Regions from separate parts of the Homo sapiens genome. Here regions 1, 3 and 4 are each reported to be linked to region 2. Evidence: microRNA targets listed by miRTarBase, many of them from high-throughput screens and not tested one by one. Region 2 holds a microRNA gene; each other region holds the end of a gene's coding sequence.

Evidence for each region. The annotated mature microRNA hsa-miR-558 reads UGAGCUGCUGUACCAAAAU and lies in region 2 at 2,474-2,492, shown strand. An mRNA with a match to its seed (bases 2 to 7 or 8) in the 3' UTR can be bound and repressed. Matches are read on the target gene's strand: a 7mer-m8 pairs with bases 2 to 8, a 7mer-A1 pairs with bases 2 to 7 and ends in A, and an 8mer does both.
Region 1: miRTarBase lists CNBP as a target of hsa-miR-558. Seed matches in the 3' UTR shown: 7mer-A1 at 3,955-3,961.
Region 3: the mRNA of TPD52L2 is a reported target of hsa-miR-558. Seed matches in the 3' UTR shown: 7mer-m8 at 6,004-6,010, 7mer-m8 at 5,200-5,206 and 7mer-A1 at 4,737-4,743.
Region 4: the mRNA of RAB37 is a reported target of hsa-miR-558. Seed matches in the 3' UTR shown: 7mer-A1 at 5,591-5,597, 7mer-m8 at 4,795-4,801 and 7mer-m8 at 4,311-4,317.

What each region holds. Positions count from the first base shown.
Region 1 is chr3:129,164,316-129,172,511 of GRCh38, reverse strand. It overlaps CNBP (CCHC-type zinc finger nucleic acid binding protein), which reads left to right. Exons shown (of 5, transcript NM_003418.5): 2 at 741-878; 3 at 974-1,066; 4 at 1,235-1,433; 5 at 1,942-4,685. The coding sequence starts at 755. The coding sequence ends at 2,059. Among named protein-coding and RNA genes, the nearest start is that of ISY1-RAB43, 7.4 kb to the right of the region's middle.
Region 2 is chr2:32,529,740-32,534,739 of GRCh38, forward strand. It overlaps MIR558 (microRNA 558), which reads left to right and starts at 2,414; the gene lies at 2,414-2,507. It overlaps BIRC6 (baculoviral IAP repeat containing 6), which reads left to right. Exons shown (of 74, transcript NM_016252.4): 60 at 1-85; 61 at 1,616-1,812.
Region 3 is chr20:63,887,818-63,896,013 of GRCh38, reverse strand. It overlaps TPD52L2 (TPD52 like 2), which reads right to left. Exons shown (of 7, transcript NM_003288.4): 6 at 6,776-6,824; 7 at 4,476-6,164. The coding sequence ends at 6,069. It overlaps DNAJC5 (DnaJ heat shock protein family (Hsp40) member C5), which reads right to left and starts at 888. Exons shown (of 5, transcript NM_025219.3): 1 at 691-888. RefSeq lists a silencer at 807-1,046, enhancers at 1,046-1,573, 1,506-1,675 and a cis regulatory region at 1,590.
Region 4 is chr17:74,743,163-74,751,358 of GRCh38, reverse strand. It overlaps RAB37 (RAB37, member RAS oncogene family), which reads right to left. Exons shown (of 9, transcript NM_001006638.3): 4 at 8,164-8,196; 5 at 8,019-8,071; 6 at 6,986-7,051; 7 at 6,430-6,486; 8 at 6,275-6,351; 9 at 4,024-6,053. The coding sequence ends at 5,948. It overlaps NHERF1 (NHERF family PDZ scaffold protein 1), which reads right to left and starts at 2,731. Exons shown (of 6, transcript NM_004252.5): 1 at 2,072-2,731. The coding sequence starts at 2,512. SLC9A3R1-AS1 (SLC9A3R1 antisense RNA 1) reads left to right here and starts at 1,492. Exons shown (of 3, transcript NR_187307.1): 1 at 1,492-2,296; 2 at 2,432-2,786; 3 at 3,816-5,759. It overlaps MIR3615 (microRNA 3615), which reads right to left and starts at 2,746; the gene lies at 2,660-2,746. RefSeq lists enhancers at 1-176, 1,668-2,293, 3,582-4,177 and a silencer at 2,498-3,187.

The DNA of each region.
Region 1 (8,196 bases), not on the chromosome of region 2:
CCCCCGGGTTCAAGCGATTCTTCTGCCTCAGCCTCCTGAGTAGCTGGGATTACAGGCGCATGCCGCCATGCCCGGCTGTTTTTTGTATTTTTAGTAGAGACGGGGTTTCGCCATGTTGGCCAGACTGGTCTCAAACTCCTGACCTCAGATGGTCCACCCGCTTCAGCCTCCCAAAGTGCTAGGATTACAGGCATGAGCCACCGTGCCCAGCCACTACCAATTATTTCTCTTAATGGATTTTCATTGACCCTAACCCTGTAAATTCCATCACTTTTATCAAGGTGTATATTATAATAAGTCTATAATACCCAATCATGTAGTTGTGTGATTATTTTATTTTTTTGAGACAGAGTCTCAATGTTGCCCAGGCTGGAGTACAGTGGCACCATCTCAGCTCACTGTAAGCTCCGCCTCCTGGGTTCACACCATTCTCCTGCCTCAGCCTCCCAAGTAGCTGGGATTACAGGCGCCTGCCACTTCACCGGGCTAATTTTTTGTATTTTTCGTAGAGACGGGGTTTCACCATGTTAGCCAAGATGGTCTCGATCTCATGATCCACCCACCTCGGCCTCCCAAAGTGATGGGATTACTGGCGTGAGCCACCATGCCCAGCTATTTTTTTAACCAATATATTAGCTAGCTTTTTTCCCCAGAATAATTTTCCAAAAATACATTTAATAGAGAATAAAAGTTAAAAGAACTTTCAGTGGTTTAATGCTGTTACTTTTAATATTTCAAAGATCTGACTGCAGCCATGAGCAGCAATGAGTGCTTCAAGTGTGGACGATCTGGCCACTGGGCCCGGGAATGTCCTACTGGTGGAGGCCGTGGTCGTGGAATGAGAAGCCGTGGCAGAGGTGGTTTTACCTCGGATAGAGGTATTTTGTCGAATAGAAAAATTTGAAGTACTTCAGTATTTGTTAGTATCAAGACTGGTCTGACTAGCCGAATTCTTTGTTTTTGCTCAAAACAGGTTTCCAGTTTGTTTCCTCGTCTCTTCCAGACATTTGTTATCGCTGTGGTGAGTCTGGTCATCTTGCCAAGGATTGTGATCTTCAGGAGGATGGTAAGTATTTAACACTTCCTTTTCATACCCCTCTAGAGCTTGGAGAGGTGAGCACATGCAACTGTGTATAGCATTTCCACCTTTGAGGTTTTGTATTGTATAATTTAAAACGTAACACTTTGTAAAGGTTTTATAGTCTTGGCCTGTTTCTTTTCCTTATTGTTGAAGCCTGCTATAACTGCGGTAGAGGTGGCCACATTGCCAAGGACTGCAAGGAGCCCAAGAGAGAGCGAGAGCAATGCTGCTACAACTGTGGCAAACCAGGCCATCTGGCTCGTGACTGCGACCATGCAGATGAGCAGAAATGCTATTCTTGTGGAGAATTCGGACACATTCAAAAAGACTGCACCAAAGTGAAGTGCTATAGGTAAGGTGTCAGAATGTTGTTAGAAGAAAACTCATTGCAGAGATTCTTCCAGAGATGAATTAGCTATAAATGGAAGGGCCTTAGTAAATTCAGTGAAACTTAGCTGTGACCAGATAAGACCAATTTTCAGCATATGTAACTGGCAGTCTATCTGTATATAATTCTGTATTCTGCCCTGATATCCTGTGGCTTATGGTACCTGGGCAGTTTTCACAACTGGACTTTTTTAATATATAAAAGTAAGAGTGTTATAATTTGAAACTTCCAGAGACTTCATAGAAAGCTCTGTAATATACATAAATCTTTTATCATGTAACCAGAAATCTTTGCCTGTTTGTGACATGTAAGTGTATAATTTGATAAATGTTGTTGTGTACATATCTGTGAAACCTTAGGGGTTAATTGCATGAAAACAAAGATCAGGCGTTTTGTTCTGCATGGTGACTGTTGCTTTGGTAGACAGTTTTTTTCTGAGGCCCATTGTGAAAACTTTTAATTTCTTTTTTAGGTGTGGTGAAACTGGTCATGTAGCCATCAACTGCAGCAAGACAAGTGAAGTCAACTGTTACCGCTGTGGCGAGTCAGGGCACCTTGCACGGGAATGCACAATTGAGGCTACAGCCTAATTATTTTCCTTTGTCGCCCCTCCTTTTTCTGATTGATGGTTGTATTATTTTCTCTGAATCCTCTTCACTGGCCAAAGGTTGGCAGATAGAGGCAACTCCCAGGCCAGTGAGCTTTACTTGCCGTGTAAAAGGAGGAAAGGGGTGGAAAAAAACCGACTTTCTGCATTTAACTACAAAAAAAGTTTATGTTTAGTTTGGTAGAGGTGTTATGTATAATGCTTTGTTAAAGAACCCCCTTTCCGTGCCACTGGTGAATAGGGATTGATGAATGGGAAGAGTTGAGTCAGACCAGTAAGCCCGTCCTGGGTTCCTTGAACATGTTCCCATGTAGGAGGTAAAACCAATTCTGGAAGTGTCTATGAACTTCCATAAATAACTTTAATTTTAGTATAATGATGGTCTTGGATTGTCTGACCTCAGTAGCTATTAAATAACATCAAGTAACATCTGTATCAGGCCCTACATAGAACATACAGTTGAGTGGGAGTAAACAAAAAGATAAACATGCGTGTTAATGGCTGTTCGAGAGAAATCGGAATAAAAGCCTAAACAGGAACAACTTCATCACAGTGTTGATGTTGGACACATAGATGGTGATGGCAAAGGTTTAGAACACATTATTTTCAAAGACTAAATCTAAAACCCAGAGTAAACATCAATGCTCAGAGTTAGCATAATTTGGAGCTATTCAGGAATTGCAGAGAAATGCATTTTCACAGAAATCAAGATGTTATTTTTGTATACTATATCACTTAGACAACTGTGTTTCATTTGCTGTAATCAGTTTTTAAAAGTCAGATGGAAAGAGCAACTGAAGTCCTAGAAAATAGAAATGTAATTTTAAACTATTCCAATAAAGCTGGAGGAGGAAGGGGAGTTTGACTAAAGTTCTTTTTGTTTGTTTCAAATTTTCATTAATGTATATAGTGCAAAATACCATATTAAAGAGGGGAATGTGGAGGACTGAAAGCTGACAGTTTGGACTTTTCTTTTTGTACTTAAGTCATGTCTTCAATAATGAAAATTGCTGTTAAAAGGATGTATGGGATTTAGATACTTTTGCAAAGCTATAGAAAATTCACTTTGTAATCTGTTATAATAATGCCCTTGAGTTCTGTGTTCAGTCTGAACAGGTTTTTTGGTGGTGGTGGTTTTGTTTTGTTTTGGAGACGGAGTCTCACTCTTGTCGCCCAGGCTGGAGTGCAGGCTTGGCTCACTGCAACCTCCACCTCCCGGGTTCAAGCAATTCTCCTGCCTCAGCCTCCTGAGTAGCTGGGATTACAGGCACCCGCCACCACCCCCCGCTAATTTTTTGTATTTTTATTTTTATTTTATTTTTTTATTTTTTTTTGAGACAGAGTGTCGCTCTGTTGCCCAGGCTGGAGTGTAGTGGTGCGATCTCGGCTCACTGCAAGCTCCGCCTCCTGGGTTCGTGCCATTCTCCTGCCTCAGCCTCCTGAGTAGCTGGGGCTACAGGTACCCGCCACCGCGCCCAGCTAATTTTTTTTTTTTGTATTTTTAGTAAAGACGGGGTTTCACGGTGTTAGCCAGGATGGTCTCAATCTCCTGACCTCGTGATCCGCCCGCCTTGGCCTCCCAAAGTGCTGGGATCACAGGCGTGAGCCACCGCGCCCGGCCTATTTTTTGTATTTTTAGTAGAGACTGGGTTTCATCATGTTGGTCGGGCTGGTCTCCAACTCCTGACCTCAGGTGATCCACCTGCCCCGCCCCCCAAAGTGCTAGTGTTACAGGTGCGAGCCACCGTGTCTGGCCGATTCTGAACAGTTTTAATACCATTGCTATTTTTGTGTTTTTCCTGGGCCTTTTTTTTTTTTTTTTTTTTTTTTGAGACAGTCTCGCTCTGTTGCCCAGGCTAGAGTGCAATGGTGCAATCTCAGCTCACTGCAACCTCCACCCCCCACCCCCACACCCCGTTCAAGTAATTCTCCTGCCTCAGCCTCCCAAATAGCTGGGATTACAGGTGTCCGCCACCACACCCAGCTAATTTTTGTTATTTTTAGTAGAGATGGGGTTTCACTGTGTTGGTCAGGCTGGTCTCCAACTGTTGCCCTCAGGTGAGCCACTGTGCCCCACCTTTTCCTGGGTTTCATAAGGATCTGAAGTGGTGGATTCCTTGTTTTTGCTAGTGTCTCATTTAGAGTTGAGATGGACCTTAAAACTCATCTGTTTTAACTCACTTTTTAATAGATGAGTTAAACTTAATTTACTTAAGGATGTACAGTTAGAGCCTGGAACTTCAACCATTATTCACTCCCCATGCCCTGTTTCCCCCCACTTCGAAATTAAATGCGGTTAGCATCATATAGTTCATTTTCCCCCTCCATGCTGCTGTGTGATTCTTGACTTTGGGTATGAGTTTTTCATCCTTCATGCAGGGTTCTGTCAGTTCATGGTATAGTGATTCAGTGTTAAAATGGTGGTGTCTCAGCTGTGCTGTGCACATTCCAACCTTGTCAAATTAATAGTCCTGAGCAAGCAAGAAAAAGAGGTAATAACATACCCATTTCTTTATGAATATAAGCTTATAATATTTTTTCATGTGCTATTTTTACTGAGCAAATTGTATGTCTCACATGTTAACACAATAAATATCTTGACAATTTTATTTTCTACCATATGTATGAAACAGCATAAGGAAAGACTTTTTTTCGAAGGCATCACTGTTAGGTTGGGGGAAAGATTTATTTTTGAAGGCATCACTGTTAAATGAGGTTTGGGGGCTGGTGTGCACATGGAGTTATTTCCCCCCAAATTCTGGGCCTCATGTAGGAAAACCTAAAACATAGCAAATGGGATATGTTGTTATGGCTCTTCAGGTCAGCTTAGTTCTCATTAATAATACTTTCTCCTGCGTTAATCACAGCTTTGTGTGTTGGGAAGGGAAAAAGTAAAGTGGGTTGGTTAAAATTTAGAACTCCTTTGCTTCATGCACCCATTCCTTGTGCTGAATTTGTAGTACTTTAGTTGCTTTGTGAGACCTTTTGAAACAACATAATTAAGGACCTATTCACAGGAGACTACAAAGTGTTCCTTTATAAGATAAAATTTATTTGCATTGACCTTGATGACTGGAAAGCAAATGCAACATGAAAATGTGTATTTTACAGAGAAATCCGGCTAACTAAAAGGAGTCACACTGGGCGTGGTGGCTTATTCCTGTGATCCCAGCACTTTGGGAAGCCAAGACGGGTGGATCATGAGGTCAGGAGTTCGAGACCAGCCTGGCTGACATGGGGAAACCCTTGTCTCTACTGAAAATGCAAAAATTAGCCAGGTGTGGTGTCACACGCCTTGATTCTCAGCTACTCAGGAGGCTGAGGCAGGAGAATACCTCGAACCAGGAGGCAGAGGTTGCAGTGAGCCAAGATTGGCGCCATTGCGCTCCATTCTGGGGAACAGACAGACTCCGTCTCAAAAAAAAAAAAAAACAGTACAATGAACCCCCCATGTGTTCTCGATCTAGAGTTAACAATAGTTTGAAAGTAAGTTATAGACGTGACATCACTTTATCATGCATCTTATAAGATGTTCTCATTACCACAGTACCATTATCATACTTAATGTATCTAAACATTCCCTAGTATCTGATATCTAATACTATATTCAAATAGCATAATTGTGTCTAAGAAGTGTTATGTAGCTACGTTTTCCAAACCAGGATCCAGTCAGCATTTATGAGTTGCATTAGGTTAATTTGTTTCTTTTTCTTACTTTGAGAAGGAGTCTTGCTCTGGAGCTCAGTGGCATGATCTTGGCCCACTGCAACGTCCGCCTCCTGGGTTCAAGCAATTCTCGTGCCTCAGCCTCCTGAGTAGCTGAGATTACAGGTGCCTGCCACCAAGCCCAGCTAATTTTTTTTAGTAGAGACAGGGTTTCACACTGTTGGCCAGGTTGGTCTCTAACTCCTGACCTCAAGTGATCCGCCCACCTCAGCCCCCCAAAGTGCTGGGATTACAGGCGTGAGCCACTGTGCCCGGCCAGGTTAATCGGTTTCTTTAGTTTGTCTTACTCTCCTAACTTAACTGTTAGGAGGCTACAACAGTTTTTTTGAATGTCCTCTATTTACTGGTTTTCTTACGGTACCGTTTAACTTGTTTTTCTATATCTCTGTATTTCCTGGTCTGGAGGCTAAATTATTAGGTTCAGCTTAAAGTTTTTGCCTTTTTTTTTTGGACAGAGTCTTGCTATGGGCACCCAGGCTGGAGTGCAGTGGCTCAACCATAGCTCCCTGTAGCCTTCAACTCCTGGGCTCAAGGGATCCTCCCACTTTCAGCCTCCATAGTAGCTGGGACTACGGGCGTGTGCCACCAAGCCCGGCTAATTTTTTAATTTTTTGTAGAGATGAGGTCTTGCAGCCAGGCACCGTGGCTCACGCTTGTAATCCCAGCACTGGGAGGCTGAGGCGGACGGATCACCTGAGGTCAGGAGTTCAACACCAGCCTGGCCAACATGGCGAAACCCCATCTCTACCAAAAATACAAAAATTAGTGGGGTATGGTGGCAGTTGCCTGTAATCCCAGCTACTCAGGAGGCTGAGGCAGAAGAATCACTTGAACCCGGGAGGTGGAGGTTGCAGTGAGCCAAGATGGTGTCACTGCACTCTAGCTTGGGGGATAGCGCGAGACTGCCTCCAAAAAAATGAGGTCTTGCTACGTTGCCTGGGCTGCTCTCAAACTACTGGCCTGAAGTGATCCTCCTGCCTTGGCCTCCTAAAGCACAGGAATTACACGCAAGAGCCACTGTGTCCAGCCTAGTAATTCTTTAGTGGCATGCATAACTCTGTGTTTAATTTTATTCACTTAAAATTAGCCGGGTGTGGTGGCGGGCACCTGTAGTCCCAGCTACTGGGGAGGCTGAGGCAGGAGAATCGCATGAACCCGGGAGGTGGAGCTTGCAGTGAGCCGAGGTCCTGCCACTGCACTCCAGCCTGGGCCACAGAGCAAGACTCCGTCTCAAAAAAATTTTTTTTTCTTCACTTGATGAAAATATTTTTTCTAATTTGTTTTTTTGAATCAAGATCCAAATGCTCTCTATACATGTGTTTCATAATGTCTCTTAAGTGTCTTAAGTCTCTAATAGTTTCCTGTCTTTACTGAAGAAAACCTGAGGTTGATTCTATGACCTATATTTGGCTGATTGGTATCATTGTGATATTGTTTCACATGATTTTTAACCCCCGTGGTTTTTGTAAAATGGTAGATTCAGAAGGTTGATTTTACATATATATAAACCTATATACATAGGTTCTGTTTTTTTTTTTTTCTTTCTTTTTTGAGACAGAGTCTTGCCCTGTTGCCCAGGTTGGAGTGCAGTGGCGCTATCTCGGCTCATTACCTCTGATTCCCAGGTGATTCTCCTGCCTCAGCCTCCCAAGTAGCTGGGATTATAGGTGCCTTGCCACCATGGCAGCCTGGTTTTTTTTTTTTCCTTTGTGTTGGAGTCTTGCTCTGTCGCCAAGGCTGGAGTGCTGTGGGAGCGTGATCTTGGCTCACTGCAACCTCCACCTCGCAGGTTCAAGCAATATACCTGGCTAACTTTTGTATTTTTAGTAGAGGTAGGGTTTCCCCATGTTGGCCAGGCTGGTCTCGAACCCCGGACTTCAAATGATCCGCCTGCTTCGGCCTCCCAGAGTGCTGGGATTACAGGCGTGAGCCACTGCACCTGACCTCTTTTTCTTTCTTTTAGACAAGAATATATCATAGGAGATGCAGTGTGCTTACTGTTGCATCATCAAGAGGTGCAAAATCTCAGGTTTTAGTTTTGGTGATCATAATCAGTTGGTTCGGTGATTTCAGTTTTGTCCATTCATCTTGAAGTTCCCCATTAATCTTGTACTAAGTGGTTTTTACGGTTTGAGAGCCATGGATGATAGATACCCTGGAAGACTTCAGTTATAAGGAACAATTAATGGAAGAATTCTAAATCATTTAAAATGCAAGACTCCCAGGAATTAATGTGTGCTCATTCTTTTCTTTTTTCCTTCCGTCCGTCCGTCCCTCCCTCCCTCCCTCCATTTTTTTTTTTTTTTTTTTTTTTTTGACAGAGTCTTGCCCTGTTTCTCAGGCTGGAGTGCAGTGGCACAATCTCTGTTCACTGCAACCTCTGCCTCCCAGGTT
Region 2 (5,000 bases):
CTGACTGTTAAATTGGGATCAAGAGTTATAACAGACCCCAGTCTATCAAAAACAGATTCTTATAAAAGACTACACCCTGAAAAAGGTATGTGCATAATACTACTTTAAAAATTACAGACTGTCATACAAAGAGGCAGAGATTTCTATAGCTAATGACTTAATTGACTTGTGTTTTTATTATATCAACATAAGATATAATTTTTTTATGACTGAATTTTTGTAAATATAAAAAATGGCCATTATTTCATTTGGAAACTAAGTTGCATTATTTCTTATAACATCATTTGTTTTATGAGCGCATGTACTTTAATTTCTGATATTTCTGTGAGAGCTATGTGAATTGTCATTTTATAATAAAAGTGAGAAACTCAACTTACAACTTTGTTATAATTTATATTGAGTGGCATTTCTTGCATATAAACATGTTTTCTCATATAATTGGGATCACATATTTTTGTTTTTTACTTATATATTCCATTAATTTTTTTTGAGACAGAGTCTTTTTCTGTCTCCCAGGTCGGAGTGCAGAGGCACGATCTTAGTTCACTGCAACCTCCGCCTCCCGAGTTCAAGTGATTTTCCTGCCTCAGCCTCCCGAGAAGCTGGGATTACTGGCACCCACCACCATGCCTGGCTAATTTTTGTATTTTTTGTAGAGAGAAGGTTTCACCATGTTGGCCAAGCTACTCTGTAACTCCTGACCTCAACTTATCTGCCCGCTTCGGCCTCACAAAGTGCTGGGATATAGGCATGAGCCACCGCACCCGGCCCTTATATTCCATTAAATATTTTTGAATATCCATTTTTGAATTGGCTATTTTTTCATAAAAATGTAAGAAAATTTATTTGTTCCCCAATCATCGAAACATTGTGGTTGTTTCCAATTTTTACTCCTATAAATGCTATATAAGTAGTTTTCATAGTGTGAGTATGATATGAACTTACTTAAACTTTCCATCTTTCTCATGACTAAAATTCAGTCTTTAGTTATTGGTCTTTTGTATTCTTCAGCAAATTTTGGTACATTGTCTTTGCCCAGTTTTTCAGCACGATTATTTCTCTCTTTTGTTTTAATGTTTAAAGGGTCTGGTTACGTGACCTTTTGGTTTTCTTTGGTGAGTAATTCAGAGTTAAACTAATATGGTATAATTTTTTGTTTTAAGTAAGGGAAGTCTTTGTCATTAATTTTTCTTAATAGGATACTTTAGAGCATATTATTTGCTATGAGAACTTTGAGAACTTATTTATTTTAACATAGGATATACGTTAAAGTATGCCCTAAAGGACAGTGCTTCTCAAACTTCAGTATGCTTACAAATGACCAGCATCATACTGTTAAAATGGAGATTCTTCATTTCAAACTAGCTTGCAGGTGATGCCAATACTACTAGTCCATGAACCATTCTTCCAATAACAAGACTAAAGAAGGCAGTATCAGAAGTCATTTAAAGGTCATTGTACCGTCTAGCCATAATACAGCTATATCTAAATAAATGATGTTTTGTGCTCTTTTTTGAGTAGCAAGAAAGCAGTAATACCTGCTTTTGTAAATGAAAGAATATTATAAAAATATACCCTTTCTTACCTATTCAGTTATTTGTAATTTATTGTCTAGATCATGGAGACTTACTTGCTAGCTGTCCAGAAGATGAGGCTCTCACTCCAGGTGATGAATGCATGGATGGGATACTGGATGAATCTTTGCTTGAAACCTGTCCAATTCAGTCACCATTACAAGTTTTTGCAGGAATGGGTGGACTGGCTCTTATTGCTGAAAGACTACCCATGCTATATCCAGAAGTAATTCAACAGGTAAGATAAGATTTCCTAATCGAGTATATCATTCCATAGCTAAGCCCTTCATTCTTTTTAATGTTTGTTTTTTAATGTACTTGGATTAACTTTGTAGAAATACCCTTTGCTTTATATTTTTTGAACATTATATAACTCTTTCAATGGTCAGTCTGTACAGAGCTTCATGACCTTCAGTAGGTATGGAAGAAATGTTGAAGATCAAGCACACTTGCCAGACTTACTACACTGTTGCATTTATCTTGATTTCATGGTTGTAACACTAGCATTCTCTTTTCTATGCTGCTTTAAGTGTGATATTTATTAGAGATATTATTGGAAATAGGAGAAGTAAAATAGCAGTGTATACTGCCACCAATATATGTCTTTTTGTTTACCTTTTATTCCTGTTTCAGGTGCCATTTCCATTTTTGGTGGTTTAAAAACATGACCTATTCCCGTGTTCATTTACGAAGCTGTCAATGTCTGTGCTTTCCATGCTCTTGTATCAATCAGTAGGAAGTATGGTGCATGGAGAGTTGTAAAAACAAAACTTTGTGTTTGTTGAATGAAGTAGGGGAATTATTCTCTTTGATTTCATGTCGTGTGTGTGTGTGTGTGTGTGTGTGTGTGTGTGTGTGGTTATTTTGGTATAGTAGCTCTAGACTCTATTATAGTTTCCTGAGCTGCTGTACCAAAATACCACAAACGGGCTGGCTTAAAACAACTGAAATTTATTCTCAATAGTTGAGGAGGCTGTAAGTCTGAAATCAAGATATCAGCAGGGCCATGCTCCCTCTGAATTCAGGCTGTAGGGAAGACTCCTTCCTTGCTTCTTCCTGGCTTCTATTGGTTGCCAGTAGTTCTTGCTGTTCATTGGTTTGTAGCTGAATCACTTTAATTTCTGCCTACGTCGTCATATGGCCATCTTTCCTGTGTGTCCTTGTATCTCTTTCTCCTTATAAGGACACCAGTCATTTAATGTAGGGTCCTGCAAACCATTATCTCCTCATCTTAACTTGATTACATCTGCAAAGGCCCCATTTCCAAATAAGGTCATCTTCATAGGTGCTAGGGGTTAGGACTTGAACATATCTTGGGAGGACAAAATGCAACACACAATAATACTTATTCATGTTATTGCTTCCCTAGTATTCAAAAATATAAGATGATATAACTATGTTATAAGGTGATTGACACAGAATGAGCAAAATTTTCTTACTAGACAATGACATAATTACTCAAAAGTTTGAAGCAGAAAAGACCCCAACATTTTCAGCATTATTATTGCTCAACATAAATGATTTTTTCTAATTTAGTATTCAGTGTGGTTCACTATATTGATTAGTAACTGGAAATGGGGTCCTGGTAATACATACCTAAGAATGTGAAAGTGACTTTAGAATTGGGTACTTGGCAGAGTATGGAATAATTTTGAGTAGCATGATTTAAAAAAAAAATCTAGATTACCTTGAATAGATTGTTAGATAAAATGTGGATGATAAAGCTTCTGCCAGTGAGGGCCCAGAAGGAAGTAAGGATCATAGGGGAGAAAACCTACAGTGTCTTAGAGAATATCTGAATTGTCATAAGCAGACTTGGTAGACATACAGGTGTTTAAAGTGCTGACAAGGTGGTTTAGAAGGAAATGAGGAACATGTTACCGGAACCTGAAGGAAAAGGGATCTTTGTCATATAGAAGCAGAACTATTAACTCATTTGTGTCCTAAATATAGAAAGCAGCACTTCTGCTGTAATGAACTTGGATGTAATGAACTTACATGTAATGAACATGTAATGAACTTGGATGTTTAGCTGAGATTTCCACACAAAGTGGTGAAAGTACAACCTGTCTTTTTCTTGCTGCTTATAGTGAAATGTGCGAGGAAAGATATAAATTGAGAGAAGAACTGTTGAAAAACAAGCAATCAGTGCTTGTCAATTTGTGAAATTACCTATCCAGATCACAGAAGGTGCTAAAATTTAGATATTTGCTATCAGAAAAGCATGCTCCAAAGTATAAGCCAAGAGTGAGGCTGGACAACCTTTTGCTAGTGCCTTAGAAACATCAAAAGTCAGAGTATTCAGTCACATAGAGGGCTCTTTGAAGAGATTAGGCATGTAACTCATGGATCTCCTCAGCCGTCTAAGCATAAGCGAGGAATAGAGGATATGATGTGATGATGGAAGCATCCAAGAGCCATGGAACGTAAGTAGCCTCTGGAAGCTGGAAAAGGTGAGGAACTGTTATTTCCTAAGAGCCTCCAGAAGCAATGCATCCTTTGATTTTAGTCCCATAAGACCTGTTTTGGATTTCTGACCTCTGGAATTTTAAAATAATAAATTGTGCTGTTCTGAGCCACTGAGTTTGTGGCAATGTGTTATAGCAGCAGTAGAAAACTAATACAGAGTTTGGTCTGTAGTTGTAATGCCTTTGTCTGGTTTTGGTGTCAGGATACTACTAGCTATATGGGATGGGTTGAGAATTTCTAATATATCAAATTAAGGATACTGTTAGGTGTGTTTAATAAGAGACACTGTCTGGGCATGGTGTAATCCTAGCCTGTAATCCTGTAATCACACTTGTAATCCCAGCACTTTGGGAGGCCAAGGCAGGAGGGTCACCTGAGGTCAGCAGTTCGAGATCAGCCTGGCCAACATGGTGAAACCCCGTCTCTACTAAAAATACAAAAATTAGCCCGGTGTGGTAGTGGGTGCCTGTTATCCCAGCCGTTCAGGAGGCTGAGGCAAGAGAATTGCTTGAACCCGGGAGGTGGAGGTTGCAGTGAGCCGAGATGGCTTCATTGCACTCAAGCTTGGGTGACAAGAGTGAAATTCCATCTCAAAAAAAAAAAAAAAAAGAGACACTGCAGATTGCAACAGTAGTGAACTGGAAGATGTATCAAAAGAAATCATTCGGCTTGGCGCGGCAGCTAATGCCTGTAATCCCAGCACTTTGGGAGGCCGAGGCAGGCGGATCACCTGAGGTCAGGAGTTTGAGATCAGCCTGGCCAACATGGTGAAACCCCATCTCTACTAAAAGTACAAAAATTAGCTGGGCGTGGTGGTGGACGCTTGTAATCCCAGCTACTCGGGAGGCTGAGGAAGGAGAATTGCTTGAACCCAGGAGGCAGAGGCTGCAGTTAACCAAGATCGCACCACTGCACTCCAGCCTGGGTGACAGAGCAAGACTCTGTCTCAAAAAAAAA
Region 3 (8,196 bases), not on the chromosome of region 2:
ATTTGAGAAATCATGGCTTCGGCACACGAAAAAGAGAGTCTTTAATCCAGACACTTAACACCAACAAGTTAGAACCTGAACGGACGAGTTCCTAATACTCTCCTTAAGAGTTCAATATAAAGCATGGCTTCAAATGTTTTTATAAAGCGGAGAAAACAGGTTTTTTCTAACAAACCAAATGCTTTTTGGAATTTACAACGTCGGAAAGATTAATTTACGATGCGTTACAGAACAATTTTCAATTCCCCGAGCTATAAACACAACGACCCAGGGACTAAATTATCTGCCTCCCTAAGACCAGCGATGGCCCAGCTTCTCCAGTCCCCCCGCAGGAGAGGAGACCCCGGGGGGTTGGGGGCGGCCGCGGGGACCTGGGGGAGCGGAGGGGGCGTCCGGGCCCGAAGAGACCCGCGGAGAGCGCCGCCCCAGCCCCCACCACGGTGCTCAGACCCCCGGCCCGGCCCGGCCCGGCTCCCGCAGGCCCCGGCGCCGACCTTCCCGCGCCCCCGCCCCGGCCCAGGCCGCGGCGTCGCAGCAGCTCCGGCCCCGAGCGCCCGCGCAGCCCCGGCCCGGGGGTCGCCGCCATTTCCGGCTCTGGAGTGCCGCCCCCGCCCCCCACCCGCGCCCGCCCGCCCGCCTGCCCGGGCCTGACGTGGGCCGATCCGCCCGCCCGACCCGCAGCGAGCTCACCTGCCCGTCCGCCCGCCCGCCCGCCCTCCCGCCGGCTCCGCGGCTCCGCTCCCCGATTCGCGGCGCTGCTGGGCAGCGGCCGACGCACTCCTCAGCCTGGAGACCCCGGGCGGCGGCGGCGGCGGCGGCAGAGGGCGCGGGTGCGGCACCGGCAGCGGCAGCGGCAGCGGCAGCGGAGACGAGCACGCTCACGCACGCACCCGCACCGGCGCGCGCGCTCCCGGAAGGACGTGGGCTCCGGCGTGTCGGAGCCGCGGGTGGGACCGGCTGCGCATGCGCTCAGAGAGCCGAGCGGAGGCTCCGTCCATGAAGGGGCGGAGTCCCGAGTGACAGCCCGGGGCCGAGGCGCCCTGTGGAGGCTCCGCCCATGAGTGGGCGGGGACGAAGCGCGGGGGCGGAGCCAGTCCTCCCAGTCTTCAGGTGGCCGCAGGTGGGTCCCGGGTGGACACGCCATGTGCTGCGGGGAACCGCGCAGAAAGAGAAGCGCAGGGCTTGCTGGTCTTGCAGGTGAGTTTACTCAGCGCTTTAAGTAAGACTGAGAAAACGTAATCGTTCTCATCAAAGAACTGAACAGGGAGCTGGTGGGAGACGGCTGCGGACCGTCGCCCCCGCCCCCACCCGGAGCCACCGTCCTGGGACTGACATTTGCTCAACCCTGGAGCGCCGAGATGGGACGTCCTTCCTTCCTTCCTGTCCAACCACTGAAATGCCGTCGCCAGCGCCCTCCCACCCTCCCGGAATCATCTCCAAACAGCAGCGTGGAGAGGCAGGACCACGAACGTCCACTCCACCTCCCTCTGCCCTTGCCCATCCCGTCGGCCACCCTTCCCTGTCCCTGTAACTGCAGGCGCTCCGCCACTCACTGACGGCCTGCCCCGCGTAGGCTGCCTGGGCCACTTCCCATCCTAGAAGCTCCCAGACCTCTGCGGCCGGTGCTCCTGCCTCCTCGCTTCCACCCTTGCCCGTTTACCTGAGTTCAGTGCGGTCATCTTTTTAAAACAAACCCAGTAGCATCCAAGGCTTCCCGTGACACACTGCGTGAAACCCAAATTCTCTCTCAACACGCTCTGGCCTCCTTCCTCTGCCCTCATAACTCACTGCCATAATGCCGGTCTTGAATTGCCAAGCTTGTTCCAGTCTCACAGCCTGGAAGTGTCAGAGCTTGGGAAGCCTCCTAGCAGTCATTAAGCTGCGCAACATCAAGCAGGCAGCAAGAAAAGGCCTATGGAACCCAAGAAGCAGAAAGGCCAGGTTCATATCTACAACTATAGATTCCAAGAGAATGAAATATTTCAGGCCAGAATTGGAGGGATGAGAGAATGAAATGGGCCTGGTACCGATCTCAGATTGAAGCTATATTCCACTTGTGCTGGGAGCTGCAAGAATGAATGAACCAGCCTTAAGTGAGTCCCTCTGAGACCTAGCAGTTCCACTTTAGGGACATTCTTCCAAAGAAAATATTCCTAAATACAGAAAAAGGTATATGCACTGAAATATTCATGAAGGCACTATTTTTAATAGCGAGAATGGAAACCTGCCCAACTGCACAAGTGAGCACTCAAATGGAATAATATAGTTACTGAAATGTATACAACGGGACCCATGGCTCACGCCTGGAATCTCAGCACTTTGGTAGACCAAGGCAGGAAGATCACTGGAGCCCAGGAGTTTGAGACCTGCCTGGACAACATAGTGAGACCACCATCTCTATAAAAAAAAATTTTTTTAATTGGCCCGGCCACAGTGGCATGCATGCCCCTGTAGTCCCAGCTACTCAGGAGGCTGGATCGGGTGGGAAGTCAAGGCTGTAGTGAGCCATGATTGTGCCACTGCATTCCTGCCTGGGTGACAGAGCAAGACCCCATCTCTTATTTAAAAAGAAGAAAAAAAGAAAGATAATGTGTAGAAAGGCTACACAGGAGCAAAGAACTCCTGAAACTAAAATGAGCACGATGCATGATATGTAAAAAGTATATTATCACACATATATCTATCCATGAACATTCCAGCCTGCTTGGAGAAAATAAGACAGGAAGGTACGCCCGGGCACAGTGGCTCACACCTGTAATCCCAGCACTTTGGGAGGCCGGGGTGGGCGGATCACCTGAGGTCAGGCGTTCAAGACCAGCCTGGCCAACATGGCAAAACCCTGTCTCTACTAAAAATACAAAAATTAGCTGGGCGTGGTGGCATGCCCCTGTAAATCCCATCTGCTCGCGAGGCTGAGGCAGGAGCATCGCTTGAGCCCAGGAGGTGGAGGTTGCAGTGAGCTGAGATTGCACCACTGCACTCCAGCCTGAGCGACAGAGTGAGACCCTGTCTCAAAAAAAAAAAAGAAGACAGGAAAGTTGACAGTGGCTACAGTTGGGAAGAGTCTGATGTTTACCTCTGATACATCAGGCCCTGTGCTAAGTGCTTTATAAGGTTAAGCCTTTCAATATGATGAGGCAGATACCATTACCCTCACTCTGAGAAGAGGGGACTGAGCCTTCAGGCATTGCTGCCCGCTCCTCAGGTCCACTTACTCCACTTGCTCCATCCTCGAAGCTCTCCAAGCGCTTCACCTCGTCAAACACAAGCCAGTGACTTAGGGGAATCTGTCTTCCCCAACAAACGGGTTGCAAAGTCCTTGAGCACTGGGTCCACATCAGATTCACCCTTGTACCCCACAAAACCTAGCAGACTCTTACCCGCAGGGCAGTTACAGTATCTGTTCAATAAATGAAGAACACATGAACTCATTCCAAAATAAATTAGTGTAAATCTTGACTGCAGGCGGCAATAGTGCATTTCACCCTTTATTGGTACCAGCTCCCTGCTGTATTGGGGCTTATGTACCATACAATTCGAGGTCACCTAACTTTCCCTGCTCTTACATCTGGGGTGAGCCCAGCTACCTCTGACCTCCAAAGGAAGACTGGTGCTCCCACTAGTTTTCCAGTGGGAACTCCAAAGACTAGGAATGGATACATGCAAAGCGCCAGACCAGGGGCAGAGTGGAGGTTCCCCCTCAAGGGTCTTTTCCTTTTTCTTTTTCTTTTTTTTTTTTTTTTTTGAGACAGAGTCTCGCTTTATCGCCCAGGCCGGAGTGCAATGGCGTGATCTCGGCTAACTGCAACCTCCACCTCCCGGGTTCAAATGATTCTCCTACCTCAGCCTCCTGAGCAGCTGGGATTACAGGTGTGAACCACCACACTCGGCTAATTATTTCACTTTTTTGTAGAGTCAGGGCCTGGCTACGATGCTCAAGCTGGTGTCAAACTCCCAGGCTCAAGTGATCCTCCCATCTTGGCCTTCCAAAGTCCTGAGCTTACAGACATGAGCCACCACACCCAGCCTACTGTTTTTAGTTGAGATGGAATCCCGGTATGCTGCCCAGGCTGGTCCTGAACTCCTGGGCTCAGGTGATCTGCCTCACCCTCCAGAATGGCGGGGACTACAGGTGTGCTCAGCAGCAGCTCAGTGCTTGCAGGGGCAGCTGGCGAAGCCTCTGGAGCTCCCGGCCCAACCTGGAGCCTGGTGAGCTCCTCCTCCGCCTCCTGGGGCTCAGTTTCAACTCCTCTTCCCAAGACGCTGGGTCTGACCTCACAGGTTGGCCATATACCATTCTCCCCTCACAGCTGGCTCCCCTTGTCCCAGCATTGAGGACCTGCCCTTTGTCTTTAGCACTGTCCCCTGCCTGCCTCTCCCAAGGGTGCGGACTCATTAGGGCAGGTACCGTGTGCCAGTTCATTTACCACTCTTATCATGGTCCCGAACGATACATCACACAAGCCGAGGCGGACTTTCCCCCAAAGGAATGCTTTATTGACAAATTACCCATTATTATAATAACTTTAAGGAAAAGATACATCGGTCAACACCCGCACAACCTGCCTTCTCACCACACCCCACAGGCCGATTTTAACCCTGGACGAAGGGCACCGAGCGCTGGGCTTCCCTGGCCCCTGCATCTCTGTCGTGTGTGGAGTGCCATCCCCAAGGGTGTCTGAACTGTCCGGGGACACGGCTGTCAGAGGACACTTGCTCTACCGAACAGGACACCTTGAGCTGAGCAGCCCTTCCCCTCCCGGGAGTGGCAGAGCCGGGCACACCACAGGCAGGCCCTCAGTGTCCTGCCAAGAGCCACTAAGGCACAGAGCTCCCCCTGCAGACCACGCCATCTGACATGCAGGGCCCCGGTGTGCGAGAGAGGCTGCTGGGGTGCGACTATTTAGTAACAGGAAGAGATCTTTGTAGCTCCTGAGAAAAAGACTGTAACGGCAATCCTGGCTGATGCCCACGCCCCACCCTCCACCTGACCTGTGGGGTCGTTTCATCCCAAGTACAGCAAGCAGGAGGGTTGGAGTCACTGACGAATGTGAGCCGGGCCAGGCCCATGCAAAGGCAGCACTGAGAAGGGGGGCACAGTTCTTTTAAAGGGTGCTAAAGACAGGGTTTTCCTTCTCTTGGCCCCTCCCATTCCCAGAGGCTCAAGAGCCCTTTAGGGCAGGGCATAGGAGCCAGCGGGAGCTGCCACGGTTGAGAAGAGAAGCAGGTTTTGTACACTGGGATGGAGTGTGCGTGACATAAAACACCTCAACTGGAAGAGGCTGCCACGCAGGCCAGGTGTAAAATTCCACACAATGCTCACAACCATTAAGGAACCCTCATCTATATACATATAAAAATTAGAAAGAAATAAAGCATAAGGCAATGTAAGGCTTGTATTTCAGCTTGAGTCCAAAGAAATAATATTCTATGAGGCTAAAGCTGCTTTGCCTAATTTAAACTTTTTGAAAAGTCCACTGCATTTAAAAAATAATGAATTTGCTTCCGTTAAAGCTAGATTCGCGTAACAATCAGGCAGCTGCTGAGGGTCAGTTTCCTTTCTGGGGGTCTCAGAAAATGGACAGTTTTCTCGTTCGGCATTTTGAGATAAAAAATTGCGTAACAGGTAGGACTTGCTGGGTGATTGCATTCCTTCTGTGAGTCAGGGAAGGAGGAGGAGGAAGAAGTCAGAAAATGCCACTTATTTTATGCTTAGAACTCTTCAATCCTTCAACATTCTGATGGGCTAACATGATTCCCAAAGGGAGCCTGGGCTTTGGCTCAATATTCTTTCAAACCCTCCGCCCTGTCCACTTCCTGCACCCCTAGGAAGGACAGCACAGTGATCTGTTTCATCTACAAACGTGAGTGTAAAACATCTGTGTACAAGCCTGTGTTCTTCAAATTCATGCAAACGCGGCAGCCACATCTCCGCGTGGATGGGCAGGACTGTCCTCAGGGCCGGCTCTGCTCATCCGCCCTGGCTGGCTGCTCCGCTGAACAGAGCTGCGGCTGTGATGCTGAGGCTGGGTTGCGTGTGCTCTGCAGCGGGTGAAGCAACCACAGGCTTAGAAAGGTGCGGGATCCGACAGGGGCTTGTCACCACTCCCCGCTGAGGAAGGGAGGTTGTCACTGCCGTTCTCTCTGTCACCCACAACCTTAGACTACAGGAGAGAAAAGATGAAGACAGAAAAACCTGAGACAGAGCACACAACACAAGGCAGATCCCAGGCCCATGCTCAATGCTCTACAAAAGCTTATGTAACACGAACACTGCTCAGCAGGGACAGGGAGCAAATCACGGACGGGCACCAGCCCCAACAGGTCTCCAGAGAACGATGCCAAATGAAGACAGTGAATGCCAAAAAGCTGCACACTGTATCGTTCCATTTACGTGACATTCTTGAAATGACACAATTATACAAAGGGAGAGTGGACTAGGGGTTGCCGGGGGTAGGGCGGGAGGAAGGTCAGCATGGCCAAGAAGGTACCAGGAAGGGCAGTGGGGACCAGGAAGGGCAGTGGGGACCAGGAAGGGCAGTGTGGAGGCGTTCTGTGTCCTGAGTCAGTGCCAATGTCCTGGTGGGGAGGCTGCACTACAGGATTTTCCAAGATGTCGTCACAGGAGAGAACTGTGTAAAAGGCACAAGGAACCTCTCTGCATTACTTCCCACAACTGTATGTGAGTCTACCATAACTAAATGACTAATAATAAACAAGTTGCTGTAACAGGTCACACCTTGCCAAGACCATCAAACAGTCCAGGTACAATTACCTTTATGGTCCCAACTCGGTCCTCAAACGACTTGAAGGTCGCAGAGTTCCTTTAAAGAGAGAGGGAAGAGTGTCGGTGTCAAGAGGAGAGGGTTGTGCTGCTCTCCTAACTCGGAAGGGCCTCAGGGTTAGGGCCAGCCTCCAAAGGGTCCCTAACAACATCCCAAGATCTCATGGCAAAACTGTGAGACAGCCAGGTCATTCCGGAGACTCCCCAGGTCAAAAGTGAGGTCGGCCATGCCCAACAACCACAGGGACAGGTCCAGACGTCACACAAGGCAACTGGAAACCCCTTGACTGTGCAGCTGGGGAGATGTCGGCCCCTCTCTGTCATACCCTACAGGGACATCCCGGGCTCTCGTACTGAGGTTATGAAAAGTCTGTGCAGTTGGGGGGCTGTCGGCCCCTCTCTGCTGTCCCCTACAGGGACACCCCGGGCTCTCGTACTGAGGTTATGAAAAGTCTGCGCAGTTGGGGGGCTGTCGGCCCCTCTCTGCTGTCCCCTACAGGGATACCCCGGGCTCTCGTACTGAGGTTATGAAAAGTCTGTGCAGTTGGGGGGCTGTCGGCCCCTCTCTGCTATCCCCTACAGGGACACCCTGGGCTCTCGTACTGAGGTTATGAAAAGTCTGCGCAGTTGGGGGGCTGTCGGCCCCTCTCTGCTGTCCCCTACAGGGATACCCCGGGCTCTCGTATTGAGGTTATGAAAAGTCTGTGCAGTTGGGGGGCTGTCGGCCCCTCTCTGCTATCCCCTACAGGGACACCCTGGGCTCTCGTACTGAGGTTATGAAAAGTCTGCGCAGTTGGGGGGCTGTCGGCCCCTCTCTGCTGTCCCCTACAGGGACACCCTGGGCTCTCGTACTGAAGTTATGAAAAGTCTGTGCAGTTCTTCATGCACATCTCTCAGAGAAGCAAACGGAAGACCAAGGACACTTCTGGGACAGCAGAGTGATAAGGAGACAAGAGGAGAAAGCAGGCCAGCTCCATCCCACTCAGTCCCTCCCACACAAACAGATACCCCTCCCAGGCCCGGGGACTCTAGAGGCCAGCACGTCTGCGACACCCAGCCAGAGTCCCCACAAGGAGAACAGGGCTCTCCTGAGAATCAGGGCGGTGCCTGACGGCGCAGGCACAGAATAGGGACCACAGTTCTGGGCTCTCCTGAGAATCAGGGCAGTGCCTCACGGCACAGGCACAGAATCCTGAGAATCAGGGTGGTGCCTGACAGGCACAGAATAAGGACCACAGCTCTGGGTGTTTCCGTGAAGGCTGAGACCGTGAAGTGTCCTGAGTGACAGCCCACCAGGGCAAGTGCCAGGATCTGTGTGCGAGCCCCTCGAACCCCACCCCACCCACTGCAGGCAGCCAGGGTCAGGACTTGGAAAGGACACGGCCCAGTTTGACACAAGGATCTCCTCTGGA
Region 4 (8,196 bases), not on the chromosome of region 2:
TAGGAAACGGGTGTGTTTTAGAAAAACGAACTCTTACAATGTCTGTTAACATTTTTTCTAATAACCACATGGGTGTCTGTATGCTCAACACACAGGATTGAGAGGAGAGGATTTTCTGCTAGAAGGACTCAATGGTGTTGACTAGGAGTCAGTTTAGAGGAGCTGGGATTCAAACGCCAGGCATGAAGGAGTGCAGTTCAGCATTTAGTAAGGGGCTCAAGTGCTTCACGTCATTTCTATAATTCTAGAGAAGGCAGGCATCACATCGCCCAATGCCTCCATCTCACAGATGGGAGAACCAGAACTCAGAAGTCCTGGGACTTGGCTGGTGATGGTGTCCCCAGGATTTGCTGGTGGCTCTCCTCTCATCTCCTGGCCTAACAAAGTACACACAAATGTAGGTGTCCCTCCAAAACATGCAGGAATCTGAGTCTGTGCTCACCCAGGAAGCTCAAAGCTGCTGCCTTTGCGCACGTGTGCTATGCCAGGCCTCCACGTTCGCCTCCCAGGCCCTCTGGCACCCAGCAGCATAACCAAAAGGGCAAAGGGAGGAGCTGAACGAGACTGCAACTTGTGGGGGGTGGGGGTGGGTGGGTATTTGTGTGGGTGCCAAAGTCCAAAAAAAAAAAAAAAAAAGAATGTCAAATCGATCGATGGACTCAGCACAAAGTTCACACTGGATTTCTGCCTGGGACTGGAGATCATCGGCCCCAACTCCCTGGCATCAACCTCCTTGCTCCGGGTGCTCAGATCCCTTCCCCCTCCCCTTGCCAATGCCAGCTTGGCAGGGGCAGGAAGTGGGAGCCTGGTGGCCCTGGCATTCCCAGCACCCAGCTCTGGCTGGACAGGGCTTCTGGTGACCTCACTTCCACCAAACCAGTTGATCCTCTAGGGCTTTGCCTTCTACCTTAATGCCGAACTGTGCCCTTTCTCTGTCCAGGAGGCTCCTCGTAGCCCCACGGACACTCCCATCAGACACTGCCACCAGGGAGAGCTGGTGGTGCAAGCTGAAGGGGTCCTGGGAGGCTCACGCCCTGCCCTACACAATGCACCACTCCACTCTCTGGGGACAGGAGGCTCAGCACAACTCCTATTTTGCCAGCTGCCCCTCTTGCAGCTGATCCAAACTGGGATCCCATGGGCAAACACCAAACATGGGCAAAAAGCAACCGGCCTGCTGGCTGTGTGGGCACCAGAGTGACCATGGCAAGGCCAGGGCAAGACCACCGGCTCACCGTGAGCTCCGCTGGCGCACACAGGGCCGTGAGCCCCAGGAGCTCTCTCTCCTCCCCATGGCCATCTTTTTCTTCTTCCAAGGTCTTTCCCCTTCCCTCCCAGATACAGTTCTAGGCGCTTACTCTTCACATTCCTGAGAATCGTAAATCCTCTGAGGTGGCAGAACCACCACTCCGAGATGCCTTGGCTCCTCCTCCCTGCCAGGCAACCCCCACACCGCCCTGAGATGGTGGGGCTTCCTCTCCCTTAGAAGTCACACAGGACTCCGGGAGGATGAAGTCCAGCAGGACTGAAGTTCAGGACACACACCGGCGGGCTGCGGAGAGGGCCTCCTCGCGCCGGGGCTCCACACAGGAGGAGTAATGCTATTCCTCTAGCTTTTGAAGTAGGAGTGGCGGGCGAAGCTGGCACCTCTGGGGCGGAGAGCCCTTTCTCCCCGGCCCATCTGCGGACTGGGGTGAACGAGGAGAGGGCACCAGGGAAGGAGCAGGATTGGGGGATTCCGAGGAACGGGAGCAGACACCCACAGACCCGAGGGAAGGGGGCTGGGTTCCCCTGCGCCGCCCTCCCAAAGGCCAGGGAACAAGAGGTGCAGGCGGCAAAGGCGCTCAAGCTCCCAGCACAGCCTGGGAAGGAGAGGAGGTCGCGGGACGCAGCCCCAGGCCTGCCTAGGATGTGTCAGGGCGCCTGGTCGGCGGGCGGAAGCGGTCTCCCCCTCGCAGCTCGAGTTTCAGAAAAACGACGGCGGGCGCGGGGCTGGACGGCCGGGGCACCTGGGTCTCTCCGGATCCTCCTCCCACTCCATGCCAGCCTGCGCGGCTTGGGCCCCGCTTACCTGCTCCGGGTGGCTCTTGTCGGCCTCGCGAGGCTCATTTTCGTTGCCAGCCCCCTGCACCTCGGCGGCGGCCGGCGGCTCGGCCTGCCCCGGCGCTTCCTGGGCGCGCAGCAGCTCCTCTCGGACCTGGACGCCGAGCTTCTGCAGCTGCTCGTCCGTCTCGGGGTCGACCACCAGCAGGCGCACGGCGTTGAGTGCGGCGCGGATGCGGCTCACCACCTGCTGGTGGGTCTCCTTCTCCACGTTTTCGCCGTTCACCTCCACCAGCCGGTCCCCCGCCAGCAGCCCCGCCTTCTCGGCCGGCGAGCCGGGCTCCACCAGCCGGATGTACTGGCCCAACTTGCCCTTCTCCCCGTGCAGGTGGAAGCCGTAGCCGTTCGGACCCTTCTCCAGGCAGCAGAGCCGGGGCAGGGGCGCCCCGGCCGCTGCGTCCGCGCTCATCTCGCCCTGCGACGGGTCAGCGGCGCGACTTGGGGTTCCGATGGGGACGGGACGGGACGGCCCAGCCCTTCTTCCCGTCCAGCGAACCGGGAGCGCAGCAGAGAAGCCCTGAGCCGCCGGACGGGCCAAGCAAGCAGGTGTCCCAGGAACCGTCGGCCGCCGCGAGCCGCGAGGAGCCGAGAGAGGACCACAGACCAATCCCCGCCCCGCGCGGCGTCTGAGCGTCCCAGAGTCCGCCCCGGCTCCTTACCCCGGGGGCGGGGCCGCGCTGAGGGTGGGGACCTCCGCGGGCCAATAGGGGGCTGCAGGCCTGGGCGCTCCGGCCGGGTGAACGGCGCCGGCCATTGGGAACGCGCGGGGCGGGGCCTGCGCTCGGCGCGGCGCCCCGCGGCGGGCGAAGACTAGCGCTCAGGAAGTGGAAGTGTTTGTTACCGAGCGGCCGGCGCTGGGGTGGCAGGGGCGGGGCTCGCCGAATTCCCGGTTCTGGGCGGGTGGGCCCGCCGGCTCCGGCCTGGTTTCCCCTACCTGTGGCGGGGAGTGAGGAAAGCCGGCCCTCGGGTAAAGGACCCTAACTTTTTTTTTTTTTTTTGAGACGGAGTCTCGCTCTGTCGCCCAGGCTGGACTGCCGTGGCGCGATCTCGGATCACTGCAACCTCCGCCTCCCGGGTTCAAGCGATTCCCCTGCCTCAGCCTCCCGAGCAGCTGGGGTTACAGGCGCGCACCACCACGCCCCGCTAATTTTTGTATTTTTAGTAGAGACGAAATTTCGCCATGTTGGCCAGGATGGTTTCAAACTCCTGACCTCAGGTGATCCGCCCTGGGATTACAGACGTGAGCCACCGCACCTGGCCAACGTTTTAACAGCCTTTAGCCAAAGCCTGGGTGCAGCTCCAGTTGAGAGGGAGCGGCTGTTGCCGGGGCAACTGCTCCCGCTCGGGGCAGCGAGGGCCGGTCAGTCTCGAGAATTAAGACGGAGGGCCTCCTCGGACCCTACAGAGTTGTTTGAATAACATTTTTCCGTTTGTGGGAACCCTAACCCTAATCCACTTTGTGCTGTCCCAGGACTCGCATAGAGGAGTGCAGGTTCTGATCCCTGCTGGGAAGGTGAGGGCTCCGCGGAGAGCCTGGGACCTCGAGGGGCAGCCCGCTGAAGACAGGCCATCTAGGGCAATAGCGTGGGCTTTGGCAGCAGCGTTTGGCTAGGGAGGTGGGGTGGGGAGAGGCAGGACAGACTCAGGTAATCAACCTCTGGGTACACGCCACAGGGAAAGGAGCCTTGGTTTTTTTTTTTTTTTTCCAACAGAAAAATGATTAGGACTGTAAAGCCTTCTAGCTCCCTCTTGCCAAAGAGAGGCTGGTCACAGAGGCGGGAGACAGTCTGTTGAGCGGGGAGCTGACCATCTGAGGACAGACACTGAGGAAGGAGGATGGAATGATTTTGGCAGTGAATGACAATTCCTTCAACAAGACCCCCCCCCCCCACTCACTTCAAAGAAACAGTGGACAGGATGTGCTTTCCAAAATACTGCAGTTTAATTCTGAAAAACTCAAATGCAAGAGGCCCAGAGCTGTCTATGGGATTGGATCTCCTGCAACCTGCCTTGGGCCCCAGAAGAGACTGGCAATGTCAGCCTCCTCCCTGCTCTGCCTGAGGGAGGCCACGGAGAACTTCCTTATCGGGCCCAAACTGGAGCCGCTGACTGCTCAGAGCAAGATTTCTGCCTTGAAAGCAAATGCAGTAGCCTCAGAAATGTGCAGCGCATACTTCTTCCTCCCCCTCTCCCCCTCCAGGCCGGCAGAGCTGCAGTAAAGATGCCTGCAGGTCATGACCTCATGTTTCCTGTCCACTTCCCATGGCAGGGATCGGAGCTTTGGGAGATATGTGACCAAGGAGGACACATGAACTTGCTACCCCTCTCTCTACCCCAGACATACCCACATGACTTTGTTTTACTCATATTGCATTGGTTTAACTCGGAAATGGGTGACCTCCCACCACCTAACCTGACTCAGTAGGAGGGGAGGTAAAGCAGTTTAGGCCCTGGTATCTGTTTGAGAAGTTAAAGGAAAGGGCATGGGTGGTCAGGGAGGAGGCAGAGCTTGGGGTCAAAGGGATACATGTCAGGGGAGGTTTGCTTAATCTTGTCTCCCACCAGCTCCAGGAGCCAGGGATTTCTCTTTTTTTTCACAACACATTCCAAACCTAGGAAAGGGATTTCTCCTTATCTGGCTCTTAACCCAGGAGGGCTAAACACTTCAGCTGCTTGAAGAAATCGCCTGTGGAGCTGCATGCCTGCCAAAGGATTGGGATAAGACACATCTAGCCTGGGCATGGTGCCTTCTGCGTGTAATCCCAGTACTTTGGGAGGCCGAGGCCGGCAGGTTGCTTGAGCTCAGGAATTCAAGACCAGCCTGGGCAACATGGCGAAACCCTGTGTCTACAAAAAATACAAAAATTAGCCAGGTGTGATGGTACACACCTATAGTCCCAGCTACTTCGGCGGCTGAGGTGGGAGGATCGCTTGAGCCCCAGGGAGTGGAGGTTGTAGTGAGCGGAGATTGCACTACTGCACCTCAGCCTGGGCGACAGAACGAGACTCCATTTCAAAAAAATAAAAACAAAACTCTTTTCCTAGTTCTGACCTGAGGTTTTTAGGTGCACAGGCAGGAAGGTAGCTAAGCCAGGGATTCAGGGGGGGGAGGGGCTCCCCCAGGATCTGAAGTCCAGAGAACAGGAGCCTGGAACCAATATTTCCAGGTGCCCCAATGTGCTTGTGTGCTGGAGAAAAGGGGCATGCCTCCAGGGGGGTGTTAGTAAGGCCAGAGATAGCCAGCTAGACCCTACTCTCTGCCCCTTGTCCTCCCCCTCCCATCTCCATATCTCTTATCTTCCCTGAGGCTTTGGTCTTCCTCACAGCACAAGGGCCCACTTATTTGGGAGATGGGGCGAAGATAAGCTCCTGGAGAGCGGGAGACAGTGAAGGCTGGGGTCACCTGAGCCTCTGTCCAGCTGAACTGAGGGTGCGATGGAGTCATTACCTGCCCTCACCCCCAAAGTGCATCTGTGTCCCCTGGGGCTGAGCTGGAGCAACACCACCTTTGTTATGCTTAGGAGGGAGGGCCGGCCCCCCAAGTCCTAGAAAGCAAAAGGGCCACTAGCTCCCAGCCTCGGTTTTTTGGGGATCCAGGCGCCTTTTTTGGTATTAAATTATGTACTATTAAAATAAAAGCTAAGTGTTTTACCCTCCCTGTGGATGCGGGGAGACCGCAGGAACTCAAGTAGGAGTTGGAGTATAGCTCCCTGCTAGGAAGCGGCTGTGCAGTGAGTCCTCCATCTTTCTCCCCATTGGCTCAGCCTCTTGGAATAAGCCAGGCCTGGGAGGGGGAAGGCTGCATCCTGTGTGCCTCCAGAGCCTCCTCTCTGCCCCCTGGGATTCACATGAAGGAGCAGCAGCTGGAGCGCTTCTTCTGGGACTCTACATAGTCTCGGATCTGGAAGCTGGGCTCATCCGCCTGATGCCCGGCCCGGTATTTCAGTTCCCTTGAAGAAGAGACAATGGGCTGGGCTGGGCTGGGCTGGGCTGGGGTGAGGAGCTGAGCCGCCCCCTCCCCTCTCCCAGTGGCCCAGTGCTCCCAGAGCAAATGGACCTCAGCCTGCAGAATGCAGGTGTGTCCAGGGGCTGGGCCAGGGGCCGGGCCCTACTGGATTCCTGGAGTGTGCCGCCCTGCCCCGCACACTTCCCTTCCCTGCCCAGCTCTCACTTGGCGATGGCCAGAAAGGCTAACTCCACATTCATGCCAGTCTTGGCGCTGGTCTCCAGGAAGGGAACACCGTACTCCTGCCCGGGAGAGAGTGTCCTCAGGGCCAGCGTCGGGTTGCCCCCACCCTTCACCCTGTCCCACAGACAATCACTTACCCTGGCCAAGGTCTCTCCGTCTTCGGAACGGATCACTCTTTCGCTGCTCATATCCGCCTGTCAAGCCCAAATGGGTCACTCTGGGGAAGGAGGCCTCCGCCCCAGCGGGCCCATATTTTGCCCCAGAAGCAGGCGTTGCCTGCCCTCTGCTGGTGGCCCAAGGGACTGCAGGCAGGTGTGATTGGCCTGGGGCCAGGGTTTCTGCCCAGTGTAGCTCCCAGCTCTGGGATCTCACCTTTGGTAAAGGGTCTTGGAATAGGACAGCAGTTGGGGCTAACCCTTTGCACTCTTAGCCCCTGACCTGGGACCCTGTTCACTCTGCTCTAATGGGGGCTGAGAACTGGGCACCCCTTGATTTCTCAGGCAACAACTTGGACTTTCCCTGGAAGGGGCAGATGGGATGGGCAGAAGCCTCCAGATATGTCTGACCCCTGAGCTGGAGGCTGCAGAGTCCTTTTCAGGAAGGATGCCTAGATAACTGTTCTTGGGTGGTTATGGGGCCGGCTAGGGCTGAGGAAGTGCAGGGCTGGGCTGACCCTGCCCCGGAGCCACTCACCTTGTTGCCTAGCAGCATGATCACCACGTCCCTCTGGGCATACTCATGAATCTCAGTGAGCCAGGCCTGTGGGAGAGGGCGTGCGAGACTGGCATTCTCTTCCTCCTGCTGCCCCTTTCTTCTTCTGCTCCGTTTGACTATCCTCAGTTACTCACTACCTTGAACACGATACCCTGTGCGTTCTCTCATCTGTACCTTTGTTCTGGCCCATCCAGGCCTGGATGGCCTTCCTTGGTGGCTCAACCCACAATGGCCCCACCCTCACCATTTTATGCTGTGCAACTATCAGTTCTATGGAAGATCCAGATGCATGGAGACCTTATCTCACAAATCAGTTGGCTGTCAGCAGTGATTTCTTGGAGTGTCCTGTTAAAGATTCTAAGACCACATAAGGGTTTCAGTGATCAAAAGTACTGTGATTGATTAGTGATGTCTGCCATGAGCATGGGGTTGGAGGTAGGAGTATGAGTGCCATGGATTTTCCTCTTTCTATATAAACGTTTTATTCTCCTAGTTTGCTTATCAGCAAACTGTCCTTGAGGTCAGGGGATTCATGAAACCTATACAATGTCGTGAACAAAATTGGTGCTTGAATTTATCAAATTTTTGTCTCTATAATAGTTTGGTTGTGAGGATACAACCACTCACTCTGTCTGACTGAGTCACTTTCTTGCAACTTGCCCTGGATGTATGTGTGGACTTTTCTGGTTGTGTTTTTCCCTTGGTCTCTGTGGATAATTATCCAGGGTGGAGTGGGGGCTGTTCTGAACACTTTGTCACGAAACACACTCGTGAATCACAGTGAGGGCTATGCAGGTGGCACAGGGTCACAACAGCCTGCTTGGCCTTCATGCCCACATGGCCACCAAATACAAAGCAGCAGATATGACTTCTGAGTCACAAGTAGGTGTTTTTCAGAAGGCAGGAGGACTCCACGCTCCACCCGCTTTCCACAGGGCAGGAAGCAACCCCAGCCTGCATAGACCTTGCCTTGGCTGCTTATGGGTGGGAGTCAGGGGAAGGGAGGACCTACCCTGATGTTGTCGAAAGAAGATTTGTTGGTGATGTCATACAGCAGAAGCAAGGCTGGAGGGGAGAGGATCACAGAGGGGACTTAGGCAGCAGCACGGATGCTACCAAGGGGCTGGGGTAGGGGTTGGAGGGTGCGAGGGACTCACCCTGAGCATCTCTGTAATAAGCATGGGTGACGC